2 separate regions of the Homo sapiens genome follow, and region 2 is linked to region 1. A link means that fine-mapping ties the variant in region 1 to the expression of a gene that starts in the linked region. Tissue or cell type: whole blood. Region 1 holds a variant in brackets; the other region holds the start of a gene. All regions are shown on one strand. Distances are between the middles of the regions.

Region 1 (8,106 bases):
AAATCACCAGCCTTCAAAGCTTGTGGGTATCATAAAATGCAGACTCCCAGGCTCAGTCTCAGAGAATGCGATTCAGTATGTCTGAATGTAGGCCCAGAATCTACCTTTTGCTGAGTACCAAGGCATTTTAATGCAGTGGTCCAAGAACTCCACTTTGAGAACAGCTACTTTAATGATTGGTTTCAGGGTTTGTTACTGTTCTACTTCACCATGGGCTTTCTCTGTCTTCAGGAAGCTGCACCTGTTGGGAGATTATTCTAAGTATTGGAAGGTCGTTGAGAGACAGCCTGAGCTTGAGCTTTGTAGAGATGCAGACCTGATCTGTCCTCTCATCTCTGCCACTTGCCAGAAGTTTGACCTTGGGCAAATTACTGGAAAATGGGAAAAATAGCACACAACTTCCAGGGTTTGGTGTGGATGGTGGCTCAGCTTCTGCCCCCCTCTCCAGCCTCTTCTTAATTCTCTTCAATGCTCCCCAGATTTCAGACCTATGAAATGACTTATCTTCTTAAAGAACCATGATTTTTCATACCTCAAATTCCTTTGCACTGTTGTGCTTTCTGGTAGGAATGCCCTACCTTAACCTCCGTGTTCACCTGACTCTTCCTTCAGACGTAACCACTCCATAAACCCTTGTGGCTGAATTTGGTGGTTTCAGTGCACCTGGAGCACCCAGTACTTGATTTATTCGTCTGTGTCTCATCTCAGTGTATGAGTTCCTTGAGGAGGTCCAGCCTTAGCCGTTAGCACTGTGGTTATGTGCAGTAGCTTTTAGTTAAAAGTTATCTTTTTTTTTTTGGAATAATCAAGGCACCTACTATGACATTAGCTAATTGTATTTCAGAGGCCTAGTTTTGAAACTTTCATTATTTGTCAACATACTTGGCAGCCATGCCAGCAGGTATAAGCTTTCCCGCATGTTTTCAAAACAGGAAACTTTTGTCCTTTGGAATAGAAGTTCTAACACTTGAGCACATTTTTTTTTTTAAACTAATGTCTTGAAGAGGTAACTTGTTTCTTTTTTTAAGTTTAGGTTTGCCTCATCCCACAATGAGATCATGAAATAACCTTGCCTCTCCCCATCCTATGAGTTAGCTGGTACTTTCTGTTTATAGTCAGTGGTCAGCACCAAAATAGTATCCCTTGAATTTCAAAGCAAGCCAGGACAGACTAGAAGTACATTAAAATTTGTGCCTGGTTACTAGAGGGGGAAAAATAAAATATATAATGTTGTTTCATATGTATGTAGTCAAAAGTAAAACATGTGACTAAATAAATTTTAAAAATAATAAACTAAAATTCATAGTAATGCTAAAATTTAGTTTATGTAAATCATTAAGTACCAGGCACAACAAAATTTTTGTTTCTTTGCTTTTTGTTTTTATGTAAACATTATTGTGCTTAGAAGTTGCCAAATTTGGTGTCTTTCAATTTTTTTCCTTTTGGAATAAATGTGAACAAAGTCTCACATTTATTCAAACATTTAACTTCATTTTAAAAATTATTGCTGTAGGATAACTTTTTTTTTTTTTTTTGAGACGGAGTCTCACGCTGTCGCCCAGCCTGGAGTGCAGTGGCGCGATCTCGGCTTACTGCAACCTCCGCCTCCCGGGTTCAAGCTATTCTCCTGCCTCTGCCTCCTGAATAGCTGGGACTACAGGCACATGCCACCACACCGGCTAATTTTTGTATTTTTAGTACAGATGGGGTTTCACCATGTTGGCCAGGCTGGTCTCAAACTCCTGACCTCAGGTGATTGCCTGCCTCGGCCTCCCAAACTGCTGGGATTACAGCCGTGAGCCACCGTGCCCAGCCGCTGTTGGATAATTTTTTAACTTAAAATTTATGTCAGAGATGGAGAATAAACTATTAAAGACTAATAGAGAATAAAATTTTTGGACCATGTATTTACAAAAGTCATGTTTAGTAGTAAAAAAAAAATCTAGTTTACACTACTTAATGAAAAAAGAGAAATATTTTTAAATATATATAACACATTCTCACTTTGACATAAATTTTTCTCTTTTTACCCCAGTTACTACTATGCCCAAGAAAATTTTCCAAACTTTAAGTCTTTTTTTTCTTTTACCACTTTGGAGTATGACCTGTTATTTATAAACTTTCCTTGAAAAAAAATCGAAATTTTAATTTGTACCCTGAAACTTTGATCAAAGTAATAGGAGATCAATACCACATGAGTTAAAGAATGGAGTAAAAATATAATTGTTCTCTGTATAATCAAGAAATTATCTGATGGGCCATTGTAACTATTTCACATTTCCATTTAGCAAGTTGGTTCCGAGATACAAAAATATTTGGCACTTTTTGGCTTGTGGATGTCCAGTTGCTCTAGCACCATTTATTGAAAATTGAAAAAATTCCTCCAGTGGATTATTTTCATACTTGTATCAAAATCAATTGGGCATATTTGTGTGGCTCTCTTTCTGGGTCATCTGTTCTATTCCATTAGTCTGTGCATGTCATTTTGGCAATGTCACACTCTCTCAGGTACTCTATTACTAGAATAATACTACCCTTACTCTTACTCTACCTTAATATTGGGGAAAGTAATTTCTGTCACTTTTTCCTTATTTCTCAAGATTGTTTTGACTATTTTAGGGTGTGTACCTTTGCATGCAAATTTTAGAATAAGCTAGTTTGTGTGTATGAAATATGTTGCTGAGATATTGATAGGAATTGCATTAAACCTGTATATTAATTTGGGGAGAATTGACATTTTTCCTGTGTTAAGTACTCTATTATATATGTTCATTTATTTAGGTTTTCTTTTTTTAATCAGCATTTAAAATTTTTTAGTATATAGATCCTGTACATAGCTTTCACTTTCCGGAGTGATTGCAAGTATTTCACTTTCCAGAGTGATTGTAAATGGTGTTTTGTTTTTTATTTTTTGGTTTCCATATGTTCATTGTTAGTATATAGTGTCTTGTTTTTAACTTTTTGGTTTCCATATGTTCATTGTTAGTATATAGAAATGTTATTGATTTTTGTGTGTTAATCTTATATCCTGCTTCCTTGCTGAACTTACTTATTCTAGAAGTTTTAGATGATTTTCACAGGTTCCTTTGGATTTTCCATGTAAACGATCGTATCATTTGCCAATACGGACAATTTTATTCTTCCTTCCTGATCTGTATGCATTTTATTTTCCTTGCCTTATTGCAGTATCTTAGAATTTCTAGTACTGTGCTGAAAAAAAGTTGTGGATCACCTTTTCCCAGTCTTAGGGGAAAACCATTCTTTCACCATTAAGGTATAGATTTTTGCAGATGCTCTTTGTCAAGTAAAGGAAGTTCCAGTTTGTTCCTATTTTAGTGAGAATTTGTATCATGATGAGATGTTGGATTTTGTCAAATGATTTTTTTTGCATCAATTGACATGATCATATGATTTTGTTATTTATTAGTATATTTGATTCCATTAATTTTTTTTCAAATGTTGATTCAGTCTTGCATATTTCGGATAAATTCTG[C/T]TTATGGTGTGTAGTCCTTTTTCTATATTACTAGATTCAGTTTGCTGGTATTTGTTTGAGGGTTTTTGCATCTAACTTAATAAGGAATAGTGGTCTATAGTTTTAAAAAAATTTTGCAATGGTTTTGTCTAGCTTTGATGTCAAGAGTAATACACTAGCTTCATTAGATGAGTTGGGAAATGTTCTTTGTTTTTTTAAACTAGATTATGTAAAATTGGCCCTAATTCTTTTTAAAATGTTTGGTAAAATTTTCCAGTAAAGCCATTTTGGCCTGGGAATTTCTTTTTTGGAGATCTTTCTCTTTTTTAGTTTTTTTTTTTTTTTTTTTTTTTGAGATGGAGTTTCACTCTTGTCTCCCAGGCTGAAGTGCAATGCCGTGATCTCAGCTGACTGCAACCTCTGCCTCCCGGGTTCAAGCAATTCTCCTACCTCAGCCTCCTGAGTAGCTGGAACTACAGGCGCACGCCACCACGCCCAGCTAATTTTTTGTATTTTTAGTAGAGATGGGTTTTCACCATGTTGGTAAGGCTGGTCTCGAACTCCTGACCTCAGGTGATCCACCCGCCTTGGCCTCCCAAAGTGCTGGGATTACAGGCGTGAGCCACTGCGCCCGGCTGAGATCTTTCTCTTCACAAATTCACTGTCTTTAATGGTTATGGGTATATGCAGGCCATTTCCTTCATCTTGGTTGAGCTTTGGTAGTTTGTGGTTTTTGAGGAATTGGTCCGTATTTTCAAAGTTGTCAAATTTATGAGCATAAAGTTATTCATTCTATGCCCTTAGTAATCTTCTAATGGCTATAGTATGAAGCTATCCCTTGTTTCATTCCTGATGGTTGTGCTTTGTGTCTTCACCTTTTTGTCAGTCTTGCTAGAGCCTTTTCAGTTTTGATTATTTTTCAGAGAACCAGTATTTGATTTCATTGATTTTTGTTGTTGTTATTTTCCTGTTTTCAATTTCATTGGTTTCTGCTCTTGTTTTTATAATTTTCATTCTACTTGCTTTGAATTTATTTTGCTCTACTTTTTCTAGTTTCTTAAAGTAGGGGACAGAGATTATTAATGTGAGACCATTTCCTCTTTTCTAATATAAGCGTCACTGTGACATAAGTGTTTCGGTCAGAACTGTTTTTTGATATTTTGCGTTTTTATTTTTATTTACGTATATGTATTTTTTGCTGTTCTATTGCTTTTTGGCCAATGATTTGTTTAGACATGTGGTATACAGAAGTGTTTGAAGATTTTTGTGTTATGTTTCTGTTACTGATTTCTAGTCTGATTACATTGTGATTGGAAATCATATGAACTTAAGGTTCACCAGCATTATAGTTGGAAAATGGAATAATTTTAATTATTTTAAAATAGTTGGGGTTTGTTTTATGACCCAGGGTATGGTCTGTCCTGGTGCATGGTCCACGGTAGCTTAAAGGGAATGAATATTCTGTTGTAGGGTGGAGTGTTCTGGAGATGTCTTTTAGATCCTGTTGGTTGATTGTTGTTCAGTTCTTTTCTGTCTTTGCTAATTTTCTTTTAGTTCTACCAGTTGCTGACAGTGAAGTGTTGAAATCTCCACCTGTAATTTAGCTTTATCAGTTTTTGTTTTATTATTTTGCAACTCTGTTGTTTGGTGCATTTACTTTTAGGAGCAGTATTTTTTTATTGATGGATTGATTTTTAAAGTATCGTTATGTAATGTCTTTGTCTCTAGTAATTTTCTTTCCTCTGAAATCTACCTTATCTGTGTTAACATAGCCATACCTGTTTTTAAAAAATAATGTTAGCATGATATATCTTTTAACGACCTTTTATGTAAAACTGATGTGTTTGAAATAAGTTTTATTAGACGGTATGTAGTTGGGTTTTGTCTGACTTTCATTAAGGTCTCTTTGCCTTCTCTGTTTTTTAAAATGCACTTTTCTGAAGTTATTTCATTTCCATACATTGAGCACAGCAGATGTTAAGTTTGTTTTAACCGTCAGTATGATTTAAGAAACTTGATGGAAAAGGATGGTCTCTTATATTTACCCCTTCCTTTGCTCTTGTTTCCTTTATGAAATTCCAAGCTGCCTTTTATTATTTTCTTTCTTTTTGAAGATACTCCTTTAGACCTTCTTTAAGCGTAGGCTTGGTAGTGACAAAATTTTTAATTTGCTAATACCTTTATGTTACCTTCTTTTTTGAAGGATAGCTTTGCTGGTTATAGCATTCATAATTAACAGTTTTCTGTTGTTTTTTGTTTGTTTTGTTTTTGTTTTAATGAGACAGGGTTTCACTCTGTCACCCAGGTAGGAGTACAGTGAGTGGCACAATCATGGCTCACTGCAGCTTGACCTCCTGGGCTCAAGCAATCCTCCCACCTCAGCCTCCTGAGTAGCTGGAACTACATATGCACAGCACCATGCCCAGCTAATTTTTAAAATTTTTTTGTAGTGATGTAGTCTCACTGTGTTGCCCAGGCTGGTCTCGAGCTCCTGGGCTCAAGTGGCCCTCCCGCCTCGGCCTCCCAAAGTGCTGGGGTTGTAGGCATGAGCTACCGTGCTGGGCCCACACAATTGACAGTACTTATGTTTCAGTTCTTATATTTCAGCATTTAAGAAATATGCCACTCCTTTTGCACTTTCATGGTTTCAGACTGAACACCAATTCGAATTGGTGTTCTAGTATAGGTAATGTGTCATTTTTCTTGGTTCCTTTTAAGACTTTTTGTCTTTAGTTTTCAGAAGTTTGTGATGTGTCTTGATATGAATTTCTTTGGGTTTATCCTATCTGGAATTCGCTCTGTAAGTTTATGTCTTTCACCAAATTTGGGAAGTTTTCCTGTATTAATTTTTCAAATCCTCCCTCAGCGTCACATTTTTTCTCCTCTCCTAATGTTAGATTTTTCATTATTGCCCTGGAGGTCCCTGAGGCTTTGTTCATTTTTTTGTTTCAGCCTACTTTTTCTGCAGCTGTTCAGACTGAACAATTCTTTTTTTTTTTTTTGGAGATGGAGTCTCGCTCTGTCACCCAGGCTGGAGTGCAGTGGCGTGATCTTGGCTCACTGCACCCTCCGCCTCCCGGGTTCAAGCGATTCTCCTGCCTCAGTCTCCCAAGTAGCTGGGATTACAGGCGTGCGCCACCACACCTGGCTAATTTTTGTATTTTTAGTAGAGATGGGGTTTCACCATGTTGGTCAGGCTGGTCTTGAACTCCTGATCTCGTGATCTGCCCGCCTTGGCCTCCCATAATGCTGGGATTACAGGTGTGAGCCACTGCGCCTGGCCGAAATTGAACACTTCTTTAGATCTGTCTTCAAGTTCACTGATCCTGTATGGTATTAAAGGACTCTAAAAGGTGGAAAGCGGGTGGACTGGCTAGGGGACGTTAGGACTTGAAACACACTGGACTGGAGTAATTTCCATGCATGTGTGTTGGGGCGGTGTGGTGTGTATGCGTGTTTGTGTTTTTCCCCCGTGTATCCCAGACTGGAGTGGAGTACAACTTGAAATTGCCAACAGGCATAAACAGCAACAAAAACAAAAAACAGAAAACCCTGTCCTCTCTGGCCAAAGGATCAGGAAAAGGGAAGCCCAGGAGGGACTTGCCAATGAGACATTTTACCCAGTGGCAGTAGCAGGCCTAGTCTGCCCACAACAGTGGCCCAGCAGAGATAGAGTGAGAAGCTTACCAGTGAGGTGACTGTAGAACAAGCCACGGGAAATGCTCTTATTCACCCCTCAGGTCTGGCAGTCCCCTACCCACTGGCCTAATCATACTGTGCAGCCTGAGGATGTGCCTTCCACCCCGCTGTGTGGCACCAGAAGCTATCCAGTGGGAGCTCCAGCAGAGCTAGAAGAATGAAGCAGACACATATTACCATCACAGGGGCTTACAAAACTCAATTGTCTTTGGAACTACAGACTACAAAAGTAGACCAGAACCTACACACCAAACCTAACTGACTCCATGTTTTTCTAACTTCCTTAAATCCTTATTTTCACTTAAAGGGATTTTTTTTTTCCTGTTACAATATGTCTGGTTGTGCTGAATGTGAGTCTGCACCATCAGTGAACTGTTGACTTATTCTGCTCTCTGCTTCTGTTCTCTGGTTCTATCATTTTAACTTTAAAATGTGCAACTCTGGTAAATCCCTAAAATTAACAGTGCATGTGTTCTGTAGGAAATGAGTTCCTCTTGGTTTGTTGGCTATTTCCAGCTTATTGTACTTTCTTTACTGCAAATTTAGGCTATTAAAAGGATATTAGTACCTGGAAACTAAGCTCGTTTTCCTCCTTTTAATCCTTATTGGCTAAAATATTAGTCATCTTTGGTTACAAGTTGATGGCTGAGCAGTTTTTCATTCCACAGTGTTGAGAAACTAGACTGGAATCTTGAGCTGATAAACCAGAATGCAGATGTGGTAGATATTGGAGTCTTGGAATCAGCAGACCCATGCCCTAGTTCTGGCTCTGAACTCATTCAACTTCTACATGATTTCTGAGAAACCCGTAATTAAAAAAAAAAAATTATTTCTAAGTCAGTGATGTTAACTGCTCTCCCAGTCTGTTGCTGCCTGAAGGGGAATATCCGGTAAAGAGACCCTGTCCTGATGCTCTTTGCCACAGAGTGTAGAGC
Region 2 (8,106 bases), 280 kb after region 1:
CATACGGAACCTTGGAAAACACTTGGAGCACAATTTCATCTCCAGTGAAGCAAACAAAGGCATGTTAATATCAGCAATATTTTGCTAAGTACCTAAAGCAGACTATGAATACAATGAATGCATGACACAAACTCAATGGATATTGGACATCATGCTGTAAATGCCTTGTCTTTGGGAAGGAAACTCCAACTACCTAAATCATTTCCAGAACATTTTAATGGCATGAGACATTTGGGGCAGCAAACACCGCCCACTAAAGATATATGACCCCAAATCTCATGATACTCAGTGCCATAATTCTCCTTCTTCTTCCTCTTGTCATTCTGCCACACAAGCACTGGGGAGGCCCCCAATGATATCAGAGAAGCGGGCCTTTCCCGACCTCCTGCGCCAAAGCCACAGTGGCCTCCCCCAGATTGCTATGACAGAAGGAAAATAAACCACTCTTTGTTTAAGCCACTATACGTCAGGTTTTCAGGAAATTGCAGCCAGGTGCATTCTTAACCGGTACAGCAACTATGGCAACACACGGACTGCCCTCACCGGGATGATCTTGACCACTCAGTTTTATGACCCATTATTGTACAGAGGAACCAAGCCCACCCTCCTAAAGATCATAATGCTCCTGGAGACTGGCCTAGAGTAGAAGACTTCAGATCATTCACACAAGCTTTCACCCAGCCTTATCTCTGCACAGAAACAGTATGAGGTGCTGGGGGTTCAGAGAGGAAGGTGACCTGGTGTGTGGTGTGCCTCCCCGAGCCATCTAGATAGCGGGAGAGGCAGAAGTATATACAGATACAACCAGACATGACACAGCCACACAGAGCTACAAAGCAAGGGCCAGGGAAGACAGGAGGGGAAGAGCTCGGCCTGCTGGGGAAGAAGTGGGCCCTGCTGGTAAGGGTGGGTTCTGGATTCAGTTGACCACAGTATTTATTGAGACCCAAGGTCACTCCTGTTCACCGACATTCGATGTCTCTGTCAACTTCCTTCACCAACAATCTGGCGCTCATGATCTCACTCCAGCCCTGGTAGGCCAGTGTGTGACATGCAAGACACCTGGAAACAGCATCTAGGAAACACTAGCTCATGAGCTACAAGCATCATGAAAAGCCCTTGAAGCAGTCATTGAAGGGGTGCTGCAGACCAGCCATAGCCCACACCAAGATCACACATGACTCACACACTCCACCCCACGCTTCGTGCCACTGAAGAAGGATGTGGAGCAAGGAGCCCAACCCCAGCACTTCCTGGGATGTGACTGCCTGGGACCCGACAGACACAAAGGGGAAAGCTGTCCTCAGAGAGTTTTGAAGCTTGTGTAAAAATGTTCTATATGAAAATTGTACCCACAAAAACAGGGGTAGGAGCCATGGGGGCAGAAACAAAGCAGAATAGATTCTATAAGCTCGGAAATCTCTTTGTTTATAAAGCTGTTGCTAATTCACAAGGGTTACATTTTTGAAATATATTAAGTTCTCCTTCCCTTTTAAGTTCTCAGGTTTCTGGCTTCCCTGGGAAGAAGCAGTTTTACTTTCCCTTCCAGGCTTTCCTTGCTAAGTCACAGAAAACAGTCCTCACAAAGCCCACTCATCCTGCATTCTCAGTGCATTTCCAGGGCTGTTGGTCCTCGGTGGTTTCCACTCGCTTGATGTAACAGGAGCTCACCACAGAGACACCAGAAAATGAACCATCGGGGTCACCAGGACAATGAGGAGCTGCTCTCACCACCTGTCCTTGATGACCATGCTGACCTACGAGTCCCTGGAAATGCTGCCCAGAGGGAACTGCAGAGTTGAGCCGTGGCCTCCAGTGCCAAGGCCCACCTGGTGTGAGCTGGGCTGGTCAGTGGACTCTTGAGGGGTGATGGGAGCTTCCCAAACCCCCAACCAGACTCCCATCTTCAGATGCAATCACTCCCCTCCTACACATATGGGGCCGAATTCAGAGACACTGGGGTCACCTGCAAGGCCGAGAACAAGGCTTCTGCCTCCTAGACAGCAGGTGCTGAGGGCACAGCTAGGGGGACTGCGAGTGCTACCTGCATCTGCTCATGCATCCCCTCCTGGTCACCTGCCAGGCAGTTGTCTATGCAGACTGCCCGAGGCCTCTGTGATGGCTCCCGTGGGGAGGAGCAAGCCCAGCGCTCCTGACACGGACAGCTGCCGGAACGGAATAGAGGCCCATCGGGTGTCGAGAGATCTGCTCCCTTGCAAGCAGGAATGAACAGGCATCGCTCTGTGATCCAAATGCCTCCTAACCCGGGGGGAAGCATCAGCGCCACTCTCCCAGTTGCTCCTTCTCACACCTAAGGTGACCCTCAACCTTCACTCCTGATGCACAGCCCAGGCACCCTCAGGAGAGACTTCACTGGCCTTTGGACAGCTTCCTTCAGCAGACAGCTGTGGTTCAGAACCCTTTTCTCCGTCTCAGCTCTCTGCTAAAGACTTCCCTGGGCCTTAGTTTTTCTCACATGTTCAGTGGAAGGTTCAGAGTGGAGACCAATGAGTCTCAGCCTAGTGTCCCCTGGAGGGTTAGAAAACTACAAATGTGAAGGTCTATCCCCACACCCCAAAATCTGATGTGGGGTGTGTGTGGAATGTCTCAATTGTTAAAAAGAGGATTGCCCCAGGGGTTTTCATGCTCAGTTAGGGCTGAGAACCCCTGGAGGAGGTTCAGCTCGGCTTTGGGGCCTCAGAGCAGAAACTGGCGAGGCAGGTGTGTCACAGCTAGTGTGAGGTGGCATCTGACGCCGCAGTCCCACATGGCCCTGCTCTGCTCCACTGATGCTCAGTAGGGTCCTTTTGAGGTGTTTATCATCTGTTTTGCTTAATTTCCTGAGACTGTGACACGTAGACAGATTCTAGCCTCAAGGAAGAGCACCTGCCTTCCCTTCACAGCAGCGGGAACAGGTTACCTGGGAGACAATGAGGACCATGCACGCAACTCTTCAAATCCAGCCTGAGGTTCCACAGGGAGTGGGGTAACTCACCAAAGATTTTAGCCAAACCTTCATCAGGATTTTTTGAATTTGAGGAAAATTCAGGCCAGGTGCCGTGGCTCACGTCTTTAATCCCAGCACTCGGGGAGGCTGAGGTGGGAGGATCACTTGAGGTCAGGAGTTCGAGGCCAGCCTGGGAAACATAGGGAGACCCCCGACTCTACAAAAAATAAAAATTAATTACCTGGGCGTGGTGGTGTGCACCTGTGGTCCCAGCTACTCAGGAAGCTGAGGCAGGAGGATCCATTGAGGTCAGGAGTTCATGACCAGCCTGGCCAACATGATGAAATCCCATCTCTACTAAAAATTATATTTTAGTAATTACTAATTTACTAGTAACTTACTAATTTAGTAATTTATTAGTTTAGTAAATTAGCCAGGCGTGGTGGCACACGCCTGTAATCCCAGCAACTTGGGAGGCTGAGGCAGGATAATCACTTGAACCTGGGAAGCAGATGTTGCAGTGAGCCAAGATAGCGCCACTGCACTCCAGCCTGGGTGAGAGAGCGACACTCCATCTCAAAAAATTAAAAAATTAAAAATTAAATAAAATTAGATAGTGATGCTTCACAACTCTATGAGTATACTAAAAACCACTGAATTATATACTTTGTAAAGGGTAAATTTGGCCAGACATAGTGGTTCATGCCTGTAATTCCAGCACTTTGGGAGGCCAAGGTAGGAGGATCACTTGAGCCCAGGAGTTTGAGACCAGCCTGGGCAACATAGTGAGATCCCTATTTCTACAGAAATTTAAAAAATTAGCTGGGTGTGGTGGTACATGCCTGTGGTCCCAGCTACCTGGAAGGCTGAAGGGAGGATCCTTGGGCCTGGAATGTTGAGGCTGCAATTAGCTGTGATTATGCCACCGCACTCCAGCTCTGGGTGACAGAGGGAGAACCTATCTCAAAAATAATAACAATAAATAGAAAAATAAAATAAAGGGTGAATTTTATTATATATTATATCCTATAAAGTTATTACTAATTTTTTTTTTTTGAGACAGGATCCCACTCTGTTGCCCAAGCTTGAGTGCAGTGGTGTGATCACGGCTTACTGCAGCCTCGACTTTTTGGGCTCAAGTGATCATCCCACCTCAGCCTCCCTAGTAGCTGGGACCACACGCACGCATCACCATGCATGGCTAATTTTAAAATTTTTTATACAGACAGGCTCTCATGATGTTGCCTAGGCCTGTCACAAACTCCTGAGCTCAAGGAATCCTCCTGCCTTGGCCTCCTAAAGTGCTGGAGTTACAAGAGTGAGCCACTGTACCCGGCCTAACCCTGTTATTTTTTAAATAGTGCATATATATAGATAAAATCAGGAGGGTTAGTTAGCATATGGTGGTTCTTTATACTAATCTTTCTACTTTTGCATATGTTTGGAAATGCTTACAGTGAAAAGTTAAAATACGCATGTATGCCACCCTCCTATAGAGCTCTGAATTTTGAGAAAGCTTCAAAGTTAGGAAAATGTTTTCAGTTACTCCCTTCCCCCAAGTAATAAACCCTGAATGGCAGATTTGGGGAGGTATAGAAGGTAGAGTAGGTAAAGCATCTGTGTTCCCCACACTGTGGGAGGGAACGCCCTCCTCTGCCCCACTTAGGCTTGAAGTGAGGCCCATGTTTCTCTCCAGCTGCCACAGCAATATACCTTGGATCCAGCAGAGAACAAAGAAGAGGGCCATGGCTCTGCTCATCTTTGCCTTAGTCCATAAACCATCATGGAGAAGCCAGTCTTCTGATGGCCCTTCAGATTCAGCAGCTGTGGACTCCAGGGTACCACGGAACCTAACGGTCTATGAAGTCATACACGGAAGTGAGGTGGAGCCTGCTCAACCATGAGAAGGGGAAGGGCCTGTGTCTGTGGACAGTGACGGGGGCTATGCTGGTGGCCCTGAAGTGACTGCCTCTCTGCTCACTTCCCTCGGCTCCCTGGTGCCTTCCTCCATCCTGCATGTCCTGAGGGCAACAGGATATTAACCAGGACTCTGAAGTCACAAGTGATAAAACTTCAACTAAATTGGCTGAAGCGAATTGGAAGTAGCTAGAATAGCCAGAAAAATCCTATGATCAATCAAGACATCACAGCCGGGCGCAGAGGCTCACACCTGTAATCCCAGCACTTTGGAAGGCTGAGGCAGGCGGATCACCTGAGGTCAGGAGTTCCAGACCAGCCTGGCCAACATGGTGAAAGCCCGTCTCACTAACAAAGTGTTGCTGCTTATTATATTAGGTAAAATTATAACACCAAAAATAGCATAGACCAATTGATACGCCCATTTTGTTACTCACGTGTCACTATTTCCCTCTATTACATTTTATAAGTATTAAACTGTTTTCAAAGGAAAAATCTATTATAGTACCTTGTACTACACTTTTTTCTAGTTTTTTCTCCATGTTCATTTTGTAATGGGTCCCACAAATTATGTAGCCAGCCCTGCCCTTGAGCCTTCATGTTCTTACAGTGTCTGTTCCATGGCTGAGATGGCAGATATCTTTTAGGGGTAAAAACTTGCACAAAGAGTTATATAGGGCCGGGCACGGTGGCTCACACCTGTAATCCCAGCAATCTGGGAGGCCAAGGCAGGCAGATCACTTGGGGTCAGGAGTTCAAGACCAGCCTGACCAACATGGTGAAACCCCATCTCTACTAAAAATACAAAAATTAGCCAGGTGTGGTGGCGAGTACCCATAGTCCCAGCTACTTGGGAAGCTGAGGCAGGAGAATCACTTGCACCTGGGAGGTGGAAGCTGCAGTAAGCCAAGATCACACCACTACACTTCAGCCTGAGCAACCGGGCGAGACTCTGTCTCAAAAAAGAAAAAAGAAAATAATCTGCATAGAAGTGGACCCGCACAGTTCAACCCTGTGTTGTGTAGATGCTGACTGAATCGTCTCCCAGTTCTGGAGGCTGGAGGTCTGAGATCAAGACGTCAGCAGGGCTGGTTCTTTCTGAGGCTGTGAGGGAAGTCTCTGTTCCAGGACGTGGGCTCAGATGGCCATCTTCTCCTTGGGCTTGCAAGACATCTTCCCTCCATACACACCTGAGTCCACATTTCCTCTTCTAAGAACACAGGATCATATCGGATTAGGGCCTGCCCTAATGACTTCATTTTAACTTGATTTCCTCTGTAAAGACCCTATCTCCAAATACAGTCACATTCTGAGGTTCGGCGGGGTGGCTAGGACTTCAACATATGAAGAGAGGGTACCATGTAATCTGTAACAGCAGGTCATGGTAACCACAGAAATCTTATTTCTCTAAAATACCTTCCAAAACAAAAACAAAAACTAGAATAAAAAATAACAAAGAATATATAAAACAACACAAAACCCACACCCTCACCACAACCACAGGACAGAAAATGTCCAAATTCCAAATGACTGGTAAATAGAAAAATAAATGCTAACCCGGGCTCCATCTCTTTTGCTTCTGCTGCTGGCCTTTGCAAAGAGGAAACCTGGAGGTTGAAGAGGGTCTAAAATCTCCATCCTGAGTTTGCAAATGCTGAAAGCGTAACCTGGTTGATCAGTACAAATACCCAGGGGTGGAAGTGCCCTGGGGACAGGAGATTGGTGAGACTCTCTCACCAATGGACTCTCTCTCCCTCTCTAAAAAAACAATGATGTTTATTCAGGAACGGGCATTACAATGGGAATAAGTATGGATGTGTTCCAGGAGGTAAAGGAAGACATTTTTTAAAGAAAAAATGAAAAGGGTTACATAGGCTTTTATAAGACAATCATCTTTGGGGCCAGGCACGGTGGCTCACACCTGTAATCCCAGCATTTTGGGAGGCCGAGGCAGGCAGATCACAAGGTCAGGAGATCGAGATCATCCTGGCTAACACGGTGAAACCCCATCTCTACTAAAAATACAAAAAATTAGCCAGGCGTGGTGGTGGGCGCCTGTAGTCCCAGCTACTCGGGAGGCTGAGGCAGGAGAATGGCATGAACCCGGGAGGCGGAGCTTGCAGTGAGCCGAGACCGCACCACTGCACTCCAGCCTGGGTGACAGAGTGAGACTCCATCTCAAAAAAAAAAAAAAAAAAAACTTAGCTGGGCATGGTGGCGGGAACCTGTGATCCCAGCTACTAGGGAGGCTGAGCCAGGAGAATTGCCTGAACCCGACAGGTGGAGGTTGCAGTGAGCCCAGATTGCGCCACTGCACTCCAGCCTGGGCAACAGAGAAAGATTGTCTCAAAAAAAAAAAAAATAAAAAAGAGACCTGAAGGTGCCTCATATACTGTTCAGAGACATTCATGCATATAACAGTCTACACTCGGTGTCTGCTTTCTCTTTGCTTTTACTTAGCAATGTGTCCTGATATGTTTCATATGAAATTATATAGCACTCTCTCATTATTTTTAATGGCTACACAGTGATCTATTTTATGAATGTATAAACACTAGATGCAAATGAATACATACCAATGACTTCATCTGCACAAAGTCCAGAAACAGGCAATACTAATATGTTTTCAAAATTCAGGATAGAGGTCACCTCGGAGGAGGAACAGGTCAGAGACCAAGGGGTAGGAGCTGACGGGGGGGCTGTTCATGCTATTAGGAAAACAGGAGCCTAGGAGAGACAGGGTGACACCATTTTAAAATCAACTGCTTTTTTTTTTTTTTTTTTTTTTGAGACAGAGTCTGGCTCTGTCACCCAGGCTGGAGTGCAATGGTGCGATCTGGGCTCACCGCAACCTCCATCTCCCGGGCTCAAGCCAACCTCCCACCTCAGCCTCTGGAGTAGCTGGCACTACAGGCGCACAACATCATGCCCGGCTAATTTTTGTATTTTTTGTAGAGACAGGGTTTTGCCATGTTGTCCAGGCTGGTCTCAAATTCCTGGGCTCAAGCAATCCACCCACTTCAGCCTCCACAAGTACTGGGATTACACGCATGAGCTACCGTGCCCATCTCAACCCCATCTTTTTTTTTTTTTTTTTTTTTGAGACGGAGTCTCACTCTGTCGCCCAGGCTGGTGGCGCGATCTCGGCTCACTGCAACCTCCGCCTCCTGGGTTCAAGCGATTCTCCTACCCCAGCCTCCTGAGTAGCTGGGACAACAGACGCATGCCACCACGCCCAGCTA

The links. PIP is the estimated chance that this variant, and not a neighbour inherited with it, causes the effect.
Region 2: C2orf92 starts here. The variant in region 1 is fine-mapped to the expression of C2orf92 in whole blood (INTERVAL, PIP above 0.99).

What each region holds. Positions count from the first base shown.
Region 1 is chr2:97,950,526-97,958,631 of GRCh38, reverse strand. The region is part of intron 1 of TMEM131 (transmembrane protein 131); the gene reads left to right. Among named protein-coding and RNA genes, the nearest start is that of TMEM131, 41 kb to the left of the region's middle. RefSeq lists an enhancer at 718-797. The variant C/T (reference allele first, on the strand shown) is at 3,494.
Region 2 is chr2:97,666,389-97,674,494 of GRCh38, reverse strand. It overlaps C2orf92 (chromosome 2 open reading frame 92), which reads right to left and starts at 4,782. Exons shown (of 8, transcript NM_001351368.2): 1 at 4,661-4,782; 2 at 1-39. The coding sequence starts at 4,706.